3 linked regions of the Homo sapiens genome follow. The protein of the gene in region 1 interacts with the protein of each later gene in a pairwise test. Each region holds a gene or a part of one and is shown in the gene's direction. Other genes may lie near its edges.

What was found.
Region 2: the proteins of ALAS1 (region 1) and CERK interact in binary tests that used the Homo sapiens proteins (3 or more experiments, as listed by UniProt).
Region 3: the proteins of ALAS1 (region 1) and CAP2 interact in binary tests that used the Homo sapiens proteins (3 or more experiments, as listed by UniProt).

What each region holds. Positions count from the first base shown.
Region 1 is NC_000003.12:52,204,507-52,208,159, forward strand, and holds part of ALAS1 (5-aminolevulinate synthase, non-specific, mitochondrial isoform 1 precursor), read left to right. Parts: intron 1-186; coding exon 187-409; intron 410-1,332; coding exon 1,333-1,517; intron 1,518-2,065; coding exon 2,066-2,245; intron 2,246-3,576; coding exon 3,577-3,653.
Region 2 is NC_000022.11:46,696,701-46,700,353, reverse strand, and holds part of CERK (ceramide kinase), read left to right. Parts: intron 1-888; coding exon 889-1,041; intron 1,042-3,653. UniProt on the Homo sapiens protein: Catalyzes specifically the phosphorylation of ceramide to form ceramide 1-phosphate.
Region 3 is NC_000006.12:17,399,966-17,403,618, forward strand, and holds part of CAP2 (adenylyl cyclase-associated protein 2), read left to right. Parts: intron 1-3,653. UniProt on the Homo sapiens protein: Involved in the regulation of actin polymerization.

The sequences.
Region 1 (3,653 bases):
TACTTACCGTCTACACATGGCACTGAGCCAAACACGACATACAGTCTTATTTACTTACAAGATGAGGACATCAAATAACCTGCCCAGGATCTCCCTCAGTTGCCAAGCTGAGACTTGTTGTATTTCACCAAAATGCAGCTGTGTTTCACAACCACCATTCTGTACTGTCTTTTGTTCAATTTTTAGCTGTTTCCACTTTTCAGTATGATCGTTTCTTTGAGAAAAAAATTGATGAGAAAAAGAATGACCACACCTATCGAGTTTTTAAAACTGTGAACCGGCGAGCACACATCTTCCCCATGGCAGATGACTATTCAGACTCCCTCATCACCAAAAAGCAAGTGTCAGTCTGGTGCAGTAATGACTACCTAGGAATGAGTCGCCACCCACGGGTGTGTGGGGCAGTTATGTAAGTAGCCCTTGGCTTTCAAATATTACTGTTGTTATTTGGCAAGCCAATGATGATGTATAGGGGTTGGATCTTTTATGGAGGGAACATTCAGTAGCTGAAAGTGTGCCATAGCAAAATACTATTCTTAGCTTCTGAAAAATATCTACAGATTACTTTTAAAGGAACTCTAATATGCAGGTAGCTGCTGGAGCCCCTTAACTTGTGAGGGTTCAAGCTTATAGGCTCAATGACCACACACGTCAGTCCACTTTCTATCACTCTGCAAGTGAGTGTGCCTTTAACACCAGGCAGTCTTTCACAGAGACATCCTTGGTTGTGGCTGTGAGTGGAGAAATACGAATCTAGCAGCGCTAGAGAAAAAGCTACTCCAAAAGACATGTTAAAAAGGATGGTAGATCCCATCACTCGTCCTTCAGGAGGCTCACCATCCTAGGGATGCTGGAGAGAGTTGCTGGCCAGATTCTCCAAAGGCTTGCTAAAGAGGGTCCCGGTTTGAGGTTTAATGATAGTGATATATCCAAACATTACATGACTGGCTTGCAGAGGGTAACCACCATCCAGGATGTCCCTCTAGAGTTTGCTTTTTCTTAAGCTAACATGTTATTGGAAAGAATAATGTTTCTCAGAAAATAAACCTTAGTTTCTTAGAAAAGAAACTCAGCTAATACCAAGCACTTACTGACTGTTAAATGAACACTTGTTCTTGATGATTCCTGGAGGTATCATCACCCTAGCATTGACACCTTCTCCCACCTAGTCTGAAGATGAAATCAGTTGAAATTTCTGACCCCAGGTTTCACAGTGAGAGAGTTGCTACATCAACATGTTTCAGTCTCCTGGATCCTAGAAAGGGGAAAAAATTCACATGGTGTTGAGAACCATGAGCTTTATTTTCTGGTTTTGTTTGTATTTTTAAACAGGGACACTTTGAAACAACATGGTGCTGGGGCAGGTGGTACTAGAAATATTTCTGGAACTAGTAAATTCCATGTGGACTTAGAGCGGGAGCTGGCAGACCTCCATGGGAAAGATGCCGCACTCTTGTTTTCCTCGTGCTTTGTGGCCAATGACTCAACCCTCTTCACCCTGGCTAAGATGATGCCAGGTAAGGAAGCCTGGCATGAGTGCCTTCGAGTTTTTTGGGTTTCTTAGTAATAACAAGAATATTGGCAACAAAGAAGCCTTACCAGAACCTCTCAATTGAAAATCATAATCCTATCTGGGCATTTGTTCTGGGGTCAAGCATGAAATGCTGACTGTACATTATGGGTTCCAGGAGAACGTGATACCAGTGAAAATTCAAACTTGAAACGTCTCATCCTTGAGCTAATTGCCTCAAATATGTTTTGTATTCTAAGATGATCCTTTGGAGAAGTCTCTTAATCATTTAGTTAGCTCTTGATTGAGTTTGGAGTGAGGCAGTCAGATTTAAGAGCAGATTAATGGCCTGCCACAAGGTTATTCTACACCTTTGGGCCTTCTCACAAGGGAAGCACTAACTAGTTATTTTGCCAGGAAGAAACTGGCACACAGTGTCTTTTTCCTACTAGGCATTTTCAAAGCATCATTTCCAAGGAAAAGTCTGTTGTCTTTCTCTAGGAAATAATTTGTCTTCGATGCACATGGCAATAAATAGCATTTTTGTTGTCTTAGGCTGTGAGATTTACTCTGATTCTGGGAACCATGCCTCCATGATCCAAGGGATTCGAAACAGCCGAGTGCCAAAGTACATCTTCCGCCACAATGATGTCAGCCACCTCAGAGAACTGCTGCAAAGATCTGACCCCTCAGTCCCCAAGATTGTGGCATTTGAAACTGTCCATTCAATGGATGGTAAGTGTGGATAGAGGTTCCTCTGAAACCTAAGATGAAAAACTATGCCTGAACTCTTTAAAAGTATGGTGTTTTGTTGTGTTTTTTAATTTTTTTTTTTTGTGACCGATCCTCGCTCTGTTGCCCAGGCAGGAGTGCAGTGGTGCGATCTCGACTCACTGCAAGCTCCGCCTCCCGGGTTCACGTCATTCTCCTGCCTCAGCCTCCCGAGTAGCTGGGACTACAGACACCTGCCACCACGCCTGGCTAATTTTTTTTTTTTTTTTTTTTGAGACGGAGTCTCCCTCTGTCACCCAGGCTGGAGTGCAGTGGCGTGATCTCGGCTCACTGCAAGCTCCACTTCCTGGGTTCACGCCATTCTCCTGCCTCAGCCTCCTGAGTAGCTGGGACTACAGGCGCCTGCCACCACGCCCAGCTAATTTTTTGTATTTTTAGTAGAGACAGGGTTTCACCATGTTAGCTAGGATGGTCTCGATCTACTGACCTTGTGATCTGCCCGCCTCAGCCTCCCAAAGAGCTGGAATTACAGGTGTGAGCCACCGCACCTGGCCTAACTTTTTGTATTTTTAGTAGACGGGGTTTCACTGTGTTAGTCAGGATGGTCTCAATCTCCTGACCTTGTGATCCGCCCACCTTGGCGTCCCAAAGTGCTGGGATTACAGGCGTGAGCCACCGCGCCTGGCCTGTTGTGTTTTTTAATTTTCTTTTCCTTTCTGCCAGGATTTTTTTTTTTCTTCTTCCAACTTTTAGGTTCAGTGGGTACATGTGCGGGTTTATTATATGGGTAAATTATGTGTCACAGGGTGTTGGTGTACCAATTATTTCATCACCTAGGTAGTAAGCATAGTACCCAATGGTAGTTTTTGATCTCACCCTCCTCCCACCCTCCACCCTCAAGTCGGTCCCTGGTGTCTGTTGTTCCCTTCTTTGTGTCCATGTGTTCTCAGTGTTTAGCTCCCACTTATAAGTGAGAGCGATATTTGGTTTTTCCGTTCCTGTATTAATTCACTTAGGATGGCCTCTAGCTCCATCCGTATTGCTGTAAAGGACATGGTCTCATTCTTTTTTTATTGCTGTGTAGTATTGCATTCTGCCAAGATTTGTAATTGGTGGACTTTTTTCTAATAGATTTGGGTGAAAGTGGATTTTCTATTCTGGCTTTTACTAGGCTCTGGGACCCCAGGTAACCTAGAAATTAGAGGAAGTTCATTTTCTTTCCAATATTGAAAATGATACCTTAGAATAGAAGTTTACGTTGTTCTGACTCTAACCAAAACAGAAATTTCTGAAGCGGCAAAAGCTCTTCAGAGCAGTCTCTGGTCTTTCCTCAGGGGCGGTGTGCCCACTGGAAGAGCTGTGTGATGTGGCCCATGAGTTTGGAGCAATCACCTTCGTGGATGAGGTCCAC
Region 2 (3,653 bases), on another chromosome or scaffold:
TGGCGCGATCTTGGCTCACTGCAACCTCCGCCTCCCGGGTTCAAGCGATTCTCCTGCCTCAGCCTCCCAAGTAGCTGGGATTACAGGCACCTGCCACCACGCCCAGCTCATTTTGTATTTTTAGTAGAGACGGGGTTTCACCATGTTGACCAGGCTGGTCTCGAACTCCTGACCTCAGGTGATCCACCCACCTCAGCCTCCCAAAGTGCTGGGGTTACTTACAGGCGCGGGCCACCGCACCTGGCCTATTTTATTTTTTTTGAAACAGAGTCTCACTCTGTGTGTGGCCCAGGCTGGAGTACAGTGGTATGATCTCGGCTCACTGCAACCTCCGCCTCCCGGGTTCAAGCGATTCTCCTGCCTGAGCCTCGCCACTAGCTGGGATTTCAGGCACACGCCACCATGCCTGGCTAATTTTTATATGTTTAGTAGAGACAAGGTTTCACCATTCTGGCCAGCCTGGTCTCAAATTCCTGACCTCAGGTGATCTGCCCGCCTCGGCCTCCCCACGTGCTGGGATTACAGGCGTGAACCACTGCACTCGGCTTGATTTTGTATTTTAAAATGCCATGTACTTTTTCTTCATTCTAAAACCACCGTCCTTTCAGTTAAAGATATTTCATGAGCCTCACGGATACACTCTTGTTCAGTCCCCACAGGATAGCTCCCCGAGCCTGTTTTAGAAATTTGAGTGGAGTTCAGTCATTTGAATAAAAAATATGGCATCCAACACCCCAAGAGAGAGAATCCTTGCACTGAATGCGTTCTGTTTGTTTCACACTTTTTAAAAGTAACTCCCACGTTTGCAAAGTGCTATTGAAGGGGATGGAGTGGATGGGGCGGGGCTGGAGGGGGGCTGCCTTCCCTCACGGCCGTTCTCTCCCACAGGGGACTCGCTGGCCATGGATGTGTCCTCAGTCCACCACAACAGCACACTCCTTCGCTACTCCGTGTCCCTGCTGGGCTACGGCTTCTACGGGGACATCATCAAGGACAGTGAGAAGAAACGGTGGTTGGGTCTTGCCAGATACGACTTTTCAGGTAACTCAGAATAATGCAGACTCGCTCCCCGCTGGTCGTGCCCCGACTGCCTTCACAGATGTTACCTGACTGAATCCACTGAGCACCGTCAGAGGTGGGCCCCCACCTGCTCACAGACGGGAAGCTAAGGGCCTCATGAAATGTGCCGGGGCCAGAACGTGGCAGGGTCTGGACTGGAACCTGGATTGCTCTAAACCAGATCCTGCCCCCTGGACCCAAGCATAAGCCACAGAGTAGACACCATGACGGACGCAGTTCACTCCAGAACCCCAGGTGCTGGAACCCCAAGACGCCAGGCCACCAGCCTCTCACATCTGGTAGGCAGGTGACAGAGGCCACCCCAAACTGTTCAAGTGGAAGTATTAATTGGAAAAAAAATAGTTTTTAAAATATATTTTTTAAAAATTTTTTTGAGACACAGTCTTCCTCCGTCACTCAGGCTGGAGTGCAGTAGCACGATCACGGTTCACTGCAGCCTTGACCTCCCAGGCTCAAGTGATTCTCCCACCTCAGCCTCCCGAGTAGCTGGGACTACAGGCACATGCCACCGTGACCAGCTAATTTTTTTTTTTTTTGTATATTTTTGTAGACAAAGGGTTTTGCCCTGTTGCCCAGGCTGGTCTCAAACTCCTGAGCTCAAGCAATCTGCCCACCTCGGCCTCCCAAAGTGCTGGGATTACAACCATGAGCAACCATGCCTGGCCTGTAAAACAATAGTTTTATAATCACTCTGAGCTTATTAGTCAAAGTGGCAAGAACTTTGTGCAGAAATTCAGCCTGGGATATCTGTGTGGAAGCTCTTCTGTAACTTCAGGCACAGGTATCCTTTACTTCATTCAACAAGGTTGCGTGGTTTTGTTGGGGTTACACCGTAGCTAGCCATACAAGTGAGATACACTCAGCACGTATTTGTTGAGCCCCTGCTCTATGCCGGGCCTGGTTTTTGAGGCAGGGACGTGTCCATGAACAAAACAGGCAAGATCCTGCCTTCCTGCGGCTCGGCCGCAGTGGGCACAGAGGAGGAGGAGTGGGAGCGAATGCCACGCCGCACTCCCTGAAGCCCAAAAGCTTTCATTCTCCACAGTGCTCTTCTCACCCCAGCAGGTGCTCCTGCCCCACTTTATAGCGGAGAAAACAGGCACAAAGAGGTTGCCCGCATCCTGCCTCACTCTTTCTTGAGCCCAGTGGTCCTCAGACTGTGGTGGGCACCTGCATCCTCTGGAGGGCTTGGTAGAACCCAGGCTGCGGGGACCCCCCAGAGCATCCAACACGGCAGGTCTGGGTGGGCTTCGGAACATGCAGGTCCTCCAGGCTCCCGGGGCTGCTGCTGGGGCCTCGGGCCAGGCGGCGGTGACCTGTTACCCGACCACAGAGTTTAGAATGAACCAGAAATGAAGGCTGGTGCCAGTTCAGACACAAGAGTTGCAGTCTGCACACATCAGGCAGTGGGTGCGACGTCACCAGCTTTTAAACGCTGGAAAAGGAGAACTTTAAAAATACATAGAATTGGCCAGGGGCAGTGGCTCACGCCTGTAATCCCAGCACTTTGGGAGGTCAAGGCAGGTGGATCACCTGAGGTCAGGAGTTCAAGACCAGCCTCGCCAACATGGTGAAACCCTGTCTCTACTAAAAATACAAAATAAGTCAGGCATGGTGGTGCACACCTATAGTCACAGCTCCTCGGGGGGCTGAGGCAGGAGAATTGCTTGAACCCGGGAGGCAGAGGCTGCAGTGAGCTGAGATCGTGCCACTGCACTTCAGCCTGGGCAACAGAGCGAGACCTCTGTCTCAAAAAAAAAGAAAAGTAGAATTTCAGCCTGGGCGACATAGGGAGACCCCATCTCCACAGAAATTAAAAACAAAATTAGCCGGGCACCCCAGTTACTCGGGATGCTGAGGCAGGAGGAGCCCTTGAGCACAGAAGGTGGAGGCTGCAGTGAGCAGAGATCAGGCCACTGCACTGCAGCTGGAGCGACAGCCAGACCCTGTCTCAAAAAAAAAAGAAAAGAAAGAAAGAAGAAAATATGTAGACCATGAGGTGTGCCATTCTCGCTGCCCGGTCGACTTTCCCGCCTCTTTACAGTTCGCTTTCAGATAAATCTGTATCAAATTAAATCGAGTAATTCCTGATACTAAAATCTTAACCCTTATGAGAGAAAGAAATAGTGATTTGGCAAACTTTACGAAGCTTGAAAAGATTTAATGAAATTAAAAACTAGTGTGGCTTGAAAATTAAAACCTAAGAAATGGCAAAGTGAGGTATTTATCTAAGGCTTATTAAGAAAGGGAATACCGAGAAAATTAGAGAAGCCGCGAGAATTTTAGGAAGCGGTTTGGGTTGTGCCATTCTCCCGACTGCCCTTTGTTGAGCCCAGTGTGGCTCTGCCTAGAATGCCCCTGGGATGCCCCCTCCCTGTCCCTGCCTGCTGGGGTGGGGTGGTGGGCAGCCCCCCTGCATGCCTGGCCCCCCCCTTTGCCCTCAGCCCATCACCACAGGCAGTGGCTGCAGCTCTGTCCCTCCCACCAGGATGAGAGCCCCGAGGCAGGAGACGCCTTCCGGGTCTCTGGATCCCCATCCTGGCCACAGGGCCTGAGATGCTCTCAGGAAAGCG
Region 3 (3,653 bases), on another chromosome or scaffold:
AATCCCAGCACTTTGGGAGGCCAAGGCGGGTGATCACAAGGTCAGGAGATTGAGACCATGCTGGCTAACACGGTGAAACCCCATCTCTATTAAAAATACAAAAAAAAAAAATTAGCTGGGCATGGTGGCACGTGCCTGTAGTCCCAGCTACTTGGGAGGCTGAGGCAGGAGAATCGCTTGAACCCGGGAGGCGGAGGTTGCAGTGAGCCAAGATCATGCCACTGCATTCCAGTGTGGGCAACAGAATGAGACTCCATCTCAAAACACACACACACATACACACACAAAACAGACCTGTAGTACATAGACAGCTTTGTTGTCCTATTATTATGCACAGTTTAATGAGAAAATAACCTCTGTTACTTTGCATCATTCCATTTGGAGATCCAGAGAAATTCTGGGATCCATTGGTTGACTTACTCCCCCTATGTTGAGTGACTGCTATATCCCTAGCATCTGGGGATGCAAAAATGAAGATCAGTGAAGGAAGATAGAATGAATAGAAGATGACACTTAAGCTGTAAACATAAGTCACAAAGGATCTATTCGGATGATTGTCATCATTTCCTACTTTGTTTCTATTTAGTTTTAGTCAGAGAAGAATCACTGGATTCTTGGCCGGGCACAGTGGCTCATGCCTCTAATCCCAGCACTTTGGGAGGCTGAGGCGGGCAGATCACAAGGTCAGGAGATCAAGACCATCCTAGCTAACATGGTGAAACCCCGTCTGTACTAAAAATACAAAAAAAATTAGCCAGGCGTGGTGGCAGGTGCCTGTAGTCCCAGCTACTCGGGAGGCTGAGGCAGGAGAATGGCGTGAACCCAGGAGGCAGAGCTTGCAGTGAGCCGAGATCGCGCCATTGCATTCCAGCCTGGGCAACAGAGTGAGACTCCGTCTCAAAAAAAAAAAAAAAAGAATCACTGGATTCTTATGAAAATGAATTATTTTATCCTAAGGCAACAAGAACAGTTAAATTGGACCACACTAAGAAAATGAGATGATCAGATTTTTCAGAACCAGGTAAAATAGGCTTCCAAGTGTTGCATGTATAGTTCAGTCTGGTTATAGTGTGATATACTGGAGTTGGAGGCATCCATTTGTAATCTTAGCTTCGAAGCTGCTGTGGTCTGAATGTTTATGTCCTCCCAAAATTCTTATGTTGAAATCCTCACTGCCATTGTGATGGTATTAGGAGTGGAAGGCCTTGGGAGGTGAATAGGTCATGGGGTAGAGCACTCATGAATGGATTAGTGCCCTTATGAAAGAGAACCAAGGGAGACCCTTTGCTCCTTTCGCCAAGTAAGGACACAGCAAGAAAGTGCCATCTATGAGCCAGAAAGTGGGCCTTGATCTGCATTGATCTTGGACTTCCCAACCTCCAGAACTGTGAGAAATAAATTTCTATTGTTTATAAGCTATCCAGTCTGTGGTGTTTTGTTACAGCAGCCTGAAAGAAACTAACATAGTAACCTGTGTATTACCCAAACTGTGCAAGTGATAGATCAATATGATATAAGTGTGATCTTTCCATCGAATGTATACTGTCCTGGTATTGCTACTCACCCCTCTCCAGTGGCAGGAAAACCAAATGTCTGGCCTAATGAGTTAGGTTGATTGATGGACAGTTTCAACTGATTGGTTACTTGACATGAGGTAGGCTAAATGCAGATAGTCTATCTCTCGGCAGTCATGCTAGAAGCTGTGGCTAGAGATTTTCAGGGTACAATGCAGATCCACAATTATTTAGGCAATTTTTTTTAAGTTTACATTTTTATTTCTCCTCCATTTGAATTTCTTCTCTGTTTCTTAGTACTCCTCTCTGTGTTCAAAGTTCTCACTGTAGACAACCCTTCACTCCCCCTCCTTCCATCTTGCTTCAGAACAGCCTCTCTCTTCCTTAGGAATTCACTCCCCTCAATGCCTCTTTCTGAATGGAAGGTGGACAATTATCAATTGAAAGTCTTCAGTAATTGAAAATTTTAAAAAGAGACTTGTTAATAGTGTGAGTCTCTATATAATATATAATTGGGGATGGAACTCATTTTTATGCTTCTTATTTTGGTTCAGCAATCTTTAAACTGTGTGCATTTACTATATGCAAAGGTTTGCCAAAGGTACATGTGCACAGGTGCTTTGAGAATATAAAGGTCCAAATCCTCCTCTTCCATATGTGCTTTTTTCCTAAGACTAATCTTGATGAGAATGGACCTGTAATGGAGACGCAAGTTCTCTTTCCCATCTGCTTTTCCATAATCACCTTCCTCTTGCTTTCCTTGTGAAAAGCGTATGTCTACCCCATTTTCCTAATCCATTTTACTAAATGGTTTATGTCTAACCCATTTTAGTAAATTGCTTTGCCCAAGGATGTAAAACTCTAGGGGATGGGGAGGACAAAAAAGGGGGAAATTTCTGAGTATAAATTTCGTTTCAGGGGTGAGAAAGCAAATGACTGTAATGCCTGAGCAGAGACCCTTTTGCAAATCATGTGTTTTCTAAATCTATCTTAAAAAACAAAAAGTGAAGGCCAGTCTAATCAAATAGTAAACCGATATTAAAGGATAAACTCTAAAAAAGAATGAAATTTTGACTCTCATACAAATAAAAAATAGACATTTTCAAACTTATTTAAAAAATGAGAGAGCCAGAAAGGTTTTGCAGTCAGTTCAAAGGAGATCATTTATAAGAATGCTGGAATGAATTTGCTTAATACATGTAAAACTGGCTTCTTCCACAATGGGAGAGGGAAGGTGATTGGACTTCTACAGCATAAAGTTTATTTGCATGTCTGTATGACTTGCTTTACTATCAGTTTTCTGCAACTTAACTTATATCTCTACAGGGTTGTAAAATAGCTTAGTCAAACACAATGAATGACTGAGATGACCCAGATGAATAAGTATTAGGGTACTCATGAAATTTGTCTTCTCAATTTTTCCTTACATTGACAATTAAAATAAGTTTTGATATTTCACTACCATGTGATGTTGGAGTTCAAAAAATTAAGTGACATTTCTATAACAAAATTCCTCCCATTTCCATCTCCTCATTATGTTTCCCAGCATTACATTGATAAAAACAAAAAATAAGAATTAAATTGATGCTCAACATTGACCCATTTTATTTATTTTTATTTTATTATTATTATTTTTTATTGAGATGGAGTCTTGCTCTGTCACCCAGGCTGGAGTGCAGTGGCACGATCTTGGCTCACTGCAACCTCTGCCTCCTGGGTTTAAGTGATTCTCATGCATCAGCCTCCTGGCTAGCTGGGACTACAGGCGCGAGCCACCATGCCCGGCTAATTTTTTGTACTTTTAGTAGAGATGGGGTTTTACCATGTTGGCCAGGCTGGTCTCAAACTCCTGACCTCAGGTGATCCGCCTGCCTTGGCCTCCCAAAGTGCGGGGATTACTGGCGTGAGCCACAGCGCCCAGCCACCTGGACTCATTTTAATAAGTATACACATCCACATATCCATAAAGTTATGGAAAGTAAAAGTGTTCAAAAGAGAGAGATTTCCAATAAAGTTGCTTTTTATTTACTTTTAGTAATTATTTGTCAAAATTTGTAATATTTGTGTTGTTTTCTAAGTCACATCCTACTAATAGTAACAATGGTATCAGAATAGCTTTTTTTAAAAAATGTTTTGACC